Linked DNA regions of Homo sapiens. The protein of the gene in region 1 interacts with the protein of each later gene in a pairwise test. Each region holds a gene or a part of one and is shown on either strand. Other genes may lie near its edges.

The links.
Region 2: the proteins of CTNNA3 (region 1) and ZNF474 interact in binary tests that used the Homo sapiens proteins (3 or more experiments, as listed by UniProt).
Region 3: the proteins of CTNNA3 (region 1) and FAM110A interact in binary tests that used the Homo sapiens proteins (3 or more experiments, as listed by UniProt).

The regions. Positions count from the first base shown.
Region 1 is NC_000010.11:65,911,830-65,915,237, reverse strand, and holds the end of CTNNA3 (catenin alpha-3), read left to right. Parts: 3' UTR 1-2,715; downstream 2,716-3,408. UniProt on the Homo sapiens protein: May be involved in formation of stretch-resistant cell-cell adhesion complexes.
Region 2 is NC_000005.10:122,132,546-122,136,145, forward strand, and holds part of ZNF474 (zinc finger protein 474), read left to right. Parts: intron 1-3,600.
Region 3 is NC_000020.11:837,851-841,685, forward strand, and holds part of FAM110A (protein FAM110A), read left to right. Parts: exon of another isoform or gene 1-2,165; intron 2,166-3,431; exon of another isoform or gene 3,432-3,835.

The DNA.
Region 1 (3,408 bases):
TGAGAAACAGAAATTCAGCCATTCTCCTGACTGATGGTAGGTGAAATTCTTCCCAATATTAGAGCCAATCTGGGTTACCATACGTTCATATATTTAACAGCTATTTGTTAAACAACTGTGATGTTCCAGGCACTGTTCTAGGTTCTTAGGATACACCATATAACAAAACAAATAGTGATCCTTGCCCTCATGTGCCAGCTCTGTGTTAAATGCTAACTATTATCTTATTCAATCCTCCAAATAACCCTATAGGATATATATCATTCCACAGACAAGGAAGCTGAGGGTTAAATGGGATAAGAATCTTGCTCAAAGTCTCACTGGCTTTAAAATATTAATATATATTTTACATCATTCAAGACAGATATATAATTAGCTGAATATTCTCACCTCTATTAACTGAATGTAGAGTGTCAGGTACATGGGAAGTAAGTTATTTACGTGATCTGAAATAAGAGGACAACCTTTGCCAAATTACTTTTATTACCATGGAGAAGAAAGCTTCAATGAAATGCCTGTTTCAGCCCATCTTCAGTATTGGTTGGTTAATACCATTTGTTAACACCAATCCTTTCCTCTTTTACTGCTAACATGTGACTGTGTTTAAAATTATAGATTGCAGCAGAGTGTTGGCCAAGGATTATTGTAGTAGGATAAAGTTTCCCTGTATTTGAAATTTACCCAAACTGTAGCAAATACATCTTTCCTTCTTTATGGAGGTCACACGTGTGCATAGTATGTGCCTGAATACAGGTAAACTTTGTGTTTTAAAATTACATGGCCTTTTTTAGAGTCGACTGAAGGCTAGACTCTTCTTGCCCATGTTGCTGGATAGGCTTTCAAATCTCAGGCCTTGGAGAGTTAAATGACTTTCTGATATTTCTTACGGTGGAGCCACATAAGAAATACACACATTCCTAGTTTGAGCAATGGATGTGTATATTGGGGATCTTCACTTTTATGTATCTGGTAGTCATGATGGTGCCTATTCCCAACTGTAGGAAAGGAAAGCCCTCAAGGAGAAAATTCTCTTTCAAAAAGGCTCAGATTTCTAACAATTATGTCTAAATGTTTCTTCAATTTAGAACATGTACAAAAGCTACTTAATATTAGCAGAGTAGTTCTTGTGTTTTCATTTCAAATGAAATATTCCCAGTTCCAAAGTTTATTTCCTTGGCATTTTCAAGAAGGATGGTTATTTTTAGTTCTGGTTATTTGGTGTTGGAGGTCTGTGACACTTCCTTATACATTTAAAGCCCCCTTTGAATAGTTGTATCAATAGTTCAAAAGCCTGTAGATATCTTGCTTTTCTATTCTGACAGCCCAGCTTCTGCAGACTCAGGCCAACCTTAGGTATGTCACATCAGTTCCCCATCTGTGTAAATTACCTGAACCTCTCTGTGGTATTCACTGAGAGTTGAGCTTCTACTAAGGGATTTCCTTGACCTGGGCTTTTAACACCAGATTTGTAGTGGAGTGTTTATTAGTAAAGCAAAGGAGTAAGTCAGAGATGCTAGCCCCTGCTCTCAGTTAAACAGAACTATCCTCCTTCCTGAATATTTAAACATAAAATTAATTTTAAACTACTATAAAAATCATGTTCCATTGCTTGCCAAATCTTATACCATTATAATGCTGTATTTTTACATGTTAGTATACATTGTGTCCATAGGGATATAAATATGAGAATTTCAGCAACTGTCTTGCAGGGTTAAGATGTGCTATTTGTTGATTTTGCAAATTTTTCTCATGTGGTACAGTCCCTCCAAAGAAAATTTCCTTAGACCTAAATGGTAGCATAATAATTTCTCCTCCATATCCGTGACTAACAAGTTCCTGAAAACAGAAGTAGACATATTTTATGCCCAATTTAGTACCTAATAATTGAGGCTTAAAACAAAATTTTCTTGGGCAAGTTGGGTGATTAAATATGAATTAAAACTTCTAGAGAAAGATTTCCAGATGCCCCTGTTTTCCATTTTGATTATGGTTTTAGTTTCATAGCAACTTGGGGGAAAAAAATCATTTACTTTATGTCGTATTACAACAACAACTTTGACAGCTTAAATGTAGTGACCTCTCTGAAGGTAATATGCACATTATAATTTAGGATGAAAGCAGATTTAAACTAAGACTTTCTGAGATGAAATAAAAGTAACCAATTCATAATAGTCATGTTTATTGCAGCAATATCTTGGGAACTTAAGTTTAGTGGCGTTTGAGGTGTTTCTGACTATCTTGCTTGTTCATTTCACCCTGCTCTGCAGAGACAGAATATGATTGAATGAACTGCCCATTATATTAATGACCAGTTCAAAGCAGTTTTGTGCTTTGGCTATAGATAAAATTTGGCAAAAATACTGTAGGCCTTTCTGGTCCATATTTATCCTTAAAGTATTTTTGCCAATCAATAAAAATGAAATATTTATCCAGAAATAGAAAAAGCTCTTTCCTATGACATTGACATAGAAGCCCAAATACTCCTTGTTTGAGACCCTGCATGTCTTTTGTGTTTAACTGAATCAATGATTTTTTTTAGTTGTGCTCTTAATTGCATTATTTCACATATGTAACACTGGGTTTGTTTTGGTTATATAGTATTATTTTACTTTATTCTAATTTCAACTCATGTCACTCTGTAGCTCATTAAGAATTTGTTCAACTGAAAATTAAAATGTGTGTTAAAGCAATAAAAATGAAAAGATTGGCTATGCATTTTATGTTGATATTTGGTGGCGGATTTCTTGGGTGGGATGAAAAAAATGGAGATTAATAAATTGCTGAGTAGTCCAACCATGTGTTTCTAAGTGTCACCTTCACTCTCATCCTCTTTCAGTTTTATATTTATAATTCAGGAAGGCACTTTTCCAAACTACTGCATGCACACAAGTAATCTGAAGCATATCTGATAGAATTAAATTCATAGTCTAAATGAGCATTTTTGGTCTAATACAGGCACTAGTCTTGGGCATTAGACATGCCTTTAATAGTTCTGTGTAGCTCAAGAGTTGTTCTTTAGCTTAGGACTTTATGAAAATGATCAATAACTTTTCTGAGAATGTCCGAACACATACTCCCTAGTGGTCATGGAATACCATTGGTTCTACCAATGCTCTTGTATCTAAAAATTGGTGGGTTTTTAACATCCATCTTGGCCTCCTCATTTTTAGGCTGATAATAATCCTTTCTCAGTATGAATCCCATGGGGTTAGCCTCTCGATCCTCTTCCAGGGGTCACACAGGCTGTTGCTATCTACTCTAGAACATCAATCACATCATTTTCTCCCTTCAGGGCCCTTACTACTTCAGAACACCTACAGCGAAGTCTCAGTCTGCAAGTTCCCAAAATGCAGTCTCTAAGTATTGTCTTTGTCACTTGATTCTTCTGAAAGACCATGTTTCCCCTGA
Region 2 (3,600 bases), on another chromosome or scaffold:
TTTTGTGTTTTGTCTAACAAATCTTTGCAAATATTAGGATCATAGATATTCTCTTCTTAAAGTTTTATCATTTTTGCTTTTATATTTAGTTCCATGATCCATCTTGAGTTAATTTTTGTGTGTAGTGAAAGTAGGGAGTTGATATTTTCTCCCTATGTGCATCCAGTTGTTCCACTCTCATTTGTTAAAAAGATTTTCCTCTCTCCATTGAATTGTCTTGGCATCTTCATCAAAAATGAATTGATCATGTATGTAAATTGACCATATGTTTCTGGACTGTCTATCCTGTTACATGGATCTGTTTGTCTATCCTTATTGGCATATTAATTTTAATAAGCCAACTTATATTATTTGAATACCTGAAGCAAGTATTCAGAATAAATATGGAAGCTGAATTCTTCCATGACTGCTTACTAGTGAACCATACGCAAGAATTAGAATCAGGTTGGGCAGTCCTCCTTGCATGTTGCCCAAATGTTTCCCCAGGCAGCAACCTTATTTTAAGTGATTCTGTAATAAGCAAAAGCCAAAAATATAGTTATAATCTTATTCAGGAATCATAATCCCAGTGAAAAAAATAAGTATTTTTCAAGCCCATTAATATAGAATGTGACTTGAACTTAATTTTTATTTGTTAATTTATTCAGTAATTTATTGGGCATCTACTATATTCCAGACACTGTTCTAGACAGGAAAAAGCAGGAGGAGAATATTTATTTGTTCATAATTTCTGCAAGAAAACATTATTTATAACATCAGCTCTGTTTCCTGTTTAACAGTATATTTCTCACAATTACAGAGAAAAATCTATACCTGGTCAAATATGCATCAGAATAAATGTCATCACATATTCTTACGAATTGACAGAAAATTATAAACATTCAAATGTTAACTAAGAAAAAATATTTTCCAGCATCTCCAAATCTTGCTATCACTTCCATAAAATACCTATTTCTTTTGAGCCTAAAATGTAAACTATTATTTCTATTAGTTGCATTTTCCAGATTATTTTATTCATTCATTCATTTCTTTGAGAAAGGGTCTTGCTCTGTCACCCAGACTGGAGTGCAGCAGCACAATCACAGCTCACTGCACCCTCGACCTCCTGGGCTCAAGCGATCCTCCTACCCCAGTCCCCCAAGTAGCTGGGACTACAGGTGTGCACCACCATGCCTGGCTAATATTTTTTACATTTTGTAGTGATGAGATCTTACTATGTTGCCCAAGGTGATCTTGAACTCCTGAGCTCAAGCAATCCTCCCACCCTGGTTCCCAAAATGCTGAGATTACAGGCGTGAGCCATAGCGCCCAGCTCCAGCTTATTTTAGAATTCAAATCTTATCTATTATTTCTAAGAGAATTTTTAGTTTTACCAACTGGACCTTCATATGACTGTTTCTTCTCTGGGTCTACATAATTTGAATAAATATGTAATCTTATTTTAACTCATTTTCCCAGACTATCTGGGTGAATGATACATTTTCAGGATTATATGCAATTCCAGAAGTAAGTTGTAAATGGTGAAGAATGTGAACAATTCCAGAACACCCTTCCTGAGGGATCAGTGATGATTTCTGCGGAGTCTTACAAACACGAAGAAACAATTTCTAAATATCATTGCACACAAATATGGCAATAGGAATACACTATGTTGGGAGCAGCAGAGAGGGAGAATATAAAGAAGGCAAGTTGTTAATCATTTAAAAAGAATGGCAAAGTGCAAATAGAAGGTCCCCCAAGGTGCAATGCAGCCAAGCATTTGTTTGAGAGGAGACTCTAACAGGAGCCTTATGGAGTTCTGTGCAGACAGCACTTAGTAGGATTCTGGTTGCATTGAGTGCTATAAGTTCACATTGATTAATAACTTGATGTCTTAATGTTAAAATGAAATCTAATTTAAATGGTCTAACAGAAGGGTTAGAAAATTTTCTTGTCTTTGCCCAAATGGTAAATAGTTAAGGGCTCGTAAGCCATACACTCTGCCATTGTAGGGCAAAAGCAGTCAACGACAAACATAAATGAATAAACATGGCTGTATTTCAATAAAATTTTATTTACAAAAGAGCTGAACGATGGCCAGATTTATCCTGTAGGCCATAGTGTGTCAGCCCTTCTAATGTTCAAGGAGTTCTGATGAGATACCTTCCAAAAATCATACATTGATACTGAAAGGCCTGTGGCCTTGAAAATGTTCTTCTTGAGTGCCTGGTACTTGGGGGTTCTCTTTAGAAGGGAGATGACTAGATAATTATATGCAGAAGAATGAAATGAAACTCTTATCTCTCTCCATAGAAAAAAATCAAATCAAAAAGGACTAAATCAAATCTAAAACATAAAACTATAAAACTTCTAGAAGAAAACACTGGGAAAACACTCTAGTACATTGGTCTGGTCAAAGACTTATTGAGTAAGATCTCAAAAGCACAGGCAACCAAAACAAAAATGGACAAATGGGATCACAGCCAGCTAAAAAGCTTCTACTGAGCAAAGAAAACAATCAACAAAGTGAAGAGACAACCCACAAATTGGAGAAAATATTTGCAAACTACCCATCTGACAAGGGATTAATTATCAGATAATATAAGGAGCCCAAACAACTCAATAGTGAAAAACCAAATTATACATTTTTAAAATGGGCAAAAAGCCAGGCTTGGTGCCATGCACCTATAATCCCAGCTACTCAGGAGGCTGAGGTGGGAGGATCACTTGAGGCCGTAAGTTAGAGACCAGCCTGGGCAACATATCAAGACTTCATCTCAAAAAATTTTTTTAATTAGAAAAAAATTAAAAATGGGCAAAAGGTCTATATACATATATCAAAAGAAGTCATGCAAACAGTCTAAAAATGTCCAACATCACTAATCATCAAAGAAATGCAAATCAAAACTAAAACAAGATATCATCTCATCTCAGGTAAAATGGATTTTATCAGAAAGACAGGCAATATTGATTGGTGGCGAGGATGTGGAGAAAGGGCAACCCTTGTACACTGTTGGTAGGAATGTAAATTAGTACAGCCACTATGAACAGTATGGAAGTTCCTCACAAAACTAAGAGTAGAACTACAATATGATCCAGCAAACTAACTGCTGGGTATATAGCCAAAAAAAGTTGAAATCAGTATGCCAAAGAGATATCTGCACTCCCATGTTTATTGCAGCAATATCCACAAGAGCCAAGGTATGGAGTCAAGATAAGTGTCCATCAGTGGATCAATGGATAAAGAAAATGTGGCACATATACTCAATGGAATATTATTCAGCCATAAAAAGAGTAAAATCCTGTCATTTACAACAACATGGATGGAACTAGAGGACATTATGTTAAGTGAAATAAGCTAAGCACAGAAGGACAGTAGAACATGTTCTTACTCAAATGTGGGAGCTAAAAAAAAAAATGTGATCTCATTGAGATAGAGAGTAAAATGATGGTTGCCAGAGCTGGGAAGGGTAATGGGAAATGAATAAATAGGGGTTGGTTAATGAGCCTAAAAATACAGTTAGAGGGAATAAGACGTAATGTTCAGGAGCATAACAGGGCAACTATAGTTAAAAATAAGCTACTGTAAGTATTTCAAAATAATGAAAAGACTAGAATTGT
Region 3 (3,835 bases), on another chromosome or scaffold:
AGGCCAGGAGCACGGTGAGGGTTTGGGGAGGAGGCTTGGTGCTTAGGGACCCTGTCCTTTTTTTTTTTTCTCTTCTCACAAGATATTTATTAATTACAAAGGGAAAATAATAACTGTACAGTGGAGAAATTTGGCAGATACTGCCTTAACCAAGGAATTGGCTGATCACTAAGATTAAGACAAACTGTTGTTATGAGTGGGTGTGGTAATGTACCTATAGTCCCAGCCACTCAGGAGGCTGAGGTGGCAGGATTGCTTCAGCCCATCTATTTGAGGCTGCAGTGAGCTATGGAGTGCACTCCAACCTGGGCAACACAGTGAGACCTCATTTCTAAAAAAAGAAAAAAGAAGCCTTCTGATACCATGTACTAAGAAGGACACAACATCACTTTTGTGTTATTCTTGACAGATATGTTTAACTTTCTCTCCTTTCTTTCTTCCTCTCTTTCTTTCTTCTCTCTTTCTTACTGATATAAGAAAAAGCTTTATACATTTAATATATACCTCTTGATGAGTGGCCTTGGCCTTTGAGGTGGGCTGGGTCCAGAACAGCCGGTTGTTCAACGGTATTTCCTCGTGTTTGGTCCCTGAAGGAAGAAAATTGGAAGGGTGTGATGGAGCTCATGGTCCAGTGGGAGAGACAGGAAACGAGTTATATTTCCTATCCTAGATAAGAGTATCTAAAATGACAGGATGTAATGAGTGCTCGGAAGGGAATAAAATGGGTGAAATTGCTGAGGGGGTCTCTTGGAGGAGATGACATTTGAAATGAGATCTGAAGGGGGTGAGGGAAGAGGTTCCAGACAGAGAACAGCTGGTGCAAAAGCCCTGAGGCAGGAAAGACCTTATGTTCAGGAACAGCAGGGAGGGCTTTGTGGCCAGAGCAGGAAAGAGGTTGGAGATAAGATGGGAGATTTGGACAAGGACTGAGTCCTGGAAGGCCTGAGGGCCAAGTGGGGAGCTTGGATTTTTTTTTTTTTTTTTTTTGAGACAGAGTCTTGCTCTGTTGTCCAGGCTGGAGTGCAGTGGCTCAATCTCAGCTCACTGCAGGGAGCTTGGATTTTATTGTAAGGGAGCCACAGGAGGGTTTAAACACAGCAGTAATGAGACTTTATTTCTGCTGGGAAAACATTGCCGTTATTGCCCCCATTTTACAGCAGAGGAAACCGAGACTCAGAACCATGACCAGGGAGTGCTTCCTAAGGTGGTTTCTCCCTCTGGGGTCCAGCCGACGAGGCAGTAGATTCCTTGGGACTTCCTTGGGGGGCACATCTGGTGAGTGGCCAAAGCCCAACACTGAAAACACCGTCTCTTCCACCTCCCCTCCCCAGATGTGAGCCTGGGTTCCAATCCTGGCTCTACCATTAATCAGCTGTGTAATTTTGGGCACGTGGCCTTACCTCTTGGAGCCTCAGTTTTCTCATCTGAAAATGGGCATAATAATAGTAGCCCTCACAGGGTAGGTGTGAGGATTAAATTAGTTAACATTTTGTAGAGCTTAGAACAGTGTCTGGTACAAAGAAAGTGCTCAGATGAGATTTGTTCTTTTCTTTTTTGGCTGTAAGTTTATTCAATGTGAAATAATCCTCTCCAATTTTATTGAGGTGGCTGACCACGTCCACGACCACATCTGCCTCTAAACTGGAATTCGGTTGCTGACCCAGCCCCAGCCTCGGCTTTCTTGTCAGCACCAGGGGGCACAGAACACCGTCTGTAGGTATCTCTGTCAGCTTCCCGTCTTGTGAGTCTTGCAGGTCGCTTACCCTCCAGACCTTTAGGCCGAGGCCTGCCAGTCTCTGGACGGCTGCGGTGTAGGGTGGCAGGAACAATCTCCGGGGGCAGATGTAGGGTGGCAGGAACAATCTCTGGGGGCAGATGAAGGTAATCACGGAGATACTGGCTACCCTCATTGGTAAGGTACCAGTAGAAATGTCTCCAGGCAAACTGTTCCTTCACGCAGCCCCGGGACTTGAGAGACTGCATGGCCTTCATGACGTGAAGGTTGGGCACATTCTTGTCTGCCAGCTCCGGGTGCTTAGGCATGTGGACATCCTTCTTGGCCACCATGACTCCCTCCTTAAAAAGGAGTTCATGAATGGCAATCCGGTTCTTCTTAGGCATCAGCATCTTGGCAGCTGTAGGGTCCGGGGCTGGGGCTGGAAAGGAAGGACTGTTCTTTTCTTTGCTATTACGAAAATCATTATTGTTGCTTTGCTGTTACTACTATTAGCGCCTGAAGGAGCCTTCCCTCCCCATCCCCCATTTCTGCCTCCGTGGAGGGCTAGGCAGGGCTCAGCAGGCCATTTGGAGGATGAAGGACTTGTTGCCCCGTCCCCTGTAAAGTCAGGGACTGGAGGAGGCTGCAGTGCTGAGGGGGAAGGAAAGCTGATGTGCATCACTGCCGGTCTCCTCATGCCCTGTACCCTAGTCCTGGCCCAGCTCCCACAGGCACAGACATGGAACAGGAGCCTCTTCAGCCTGAGTGTGGCAGAGGGCTGGGGCTGAGGCCTGGGGGACAGCTCCTTCTCTGGGCCTCAGGATTCCCATGAAAAAATGGCCTATCAAATGTTCCTACCTGCAGTGAGTTATAGGACTTGGGGTGGAAGAGGTGACAGTCACCTCCCTCTGGGAATTCCTTCCTGCAGGGCTGCAGTCTCATGGGATTAAATGAGGGGGCTCTGGGGATTTAAATGAGTATGGTGCCTGGCACCCCAAAATTCTAGTTATTGTTGTTACTATGACGGCTGTTGTTGCCGATGTTAACCGTTTTCACAAGGCAGCTGAGGCATGCTCAGGCTCAGCCTGTTCCAGAGGGATGGACTCTACACGTGACAGCATGGAGCACCAGGAGGGTCCCGCAGCCTGGTCAGGGACACACAGCTAGAAAGTGGTGGCGTTAAGCCTTGGTCTGGAGGGAAAGTGCGCAGGCTGGACTCCCCAGAGTGATTTTGGGCTAGTGACTCAGCCTCTCTCAGCCTCAGTTTACCATTAGTCAAATGGGGTAACAATAGAACTCACCAGATAGTGATTGTTGGGAAGATTAAAATGGGTTACCCGATACCAAGAAAAACACTTTCCCGTGCCTGGCACAGTGAACATCACCTGGCGGTCGTTCTGAGTGTCAGGGAGCGGGGCTCAGTTTGTCCATCTCTAAGGTGGGTGCGCTTGCCTGCCAGAGCCACGGGGACCCCGCGCGCCAGGTGTGCGGTGGGCGGGTCTCGGCTCCCGGAAGAACTTCCCTGGGTGGTCCTGGAGCGGGTCGGACCCAGTTCCTGAGCCAGGCCAGCTGCCGGCGGCCGGGGCTCGGGTTCTGGCCCCTGCCTGGCTTTCCTTACCCTTTTCGGGTAGTACCTGGACCAGCGGGTTCACTTGCCCGCGGCCGCCGGAAGTTGCGCAAACTCAGCTTGCCGGAGCCCCAGGTGGGCCGGGCCGGAGGAGCGCAGGCCAGCGGCGCGGGCGCAGCCGGGTACGTGCGGACCGCGGCGGGGGGCGCCCAGCCGGGGTAGGGGGCGGCCCGAGCACCCCTCCACCCCAGGACGGCGGGAACGGGGCAGGGATCTACCTTTCGGCTTCAAGAGGACCGCGGGGATGGTGCCGCTCTCTCCCTCATTTGAGAGCCAGGAGGGGCGGCGAGGGGCAAGGGTCACACAGCGCCCTGCTAGCCGACCCCCCATCCCCCGCCACCGGGAGTCCTCAAGCTTTTCCGGAATTGAGGGAGAGCAAAAGCCAGCCTGGGGATCTGAGTTCCCCCCAGCCCTGCCCCGCGGCCTCTGGAGGCTGACGCTGGGGAGCTAGTGGGGAGGGGGCCAGGTGGGGATGCGCGCCCCCGGGATGC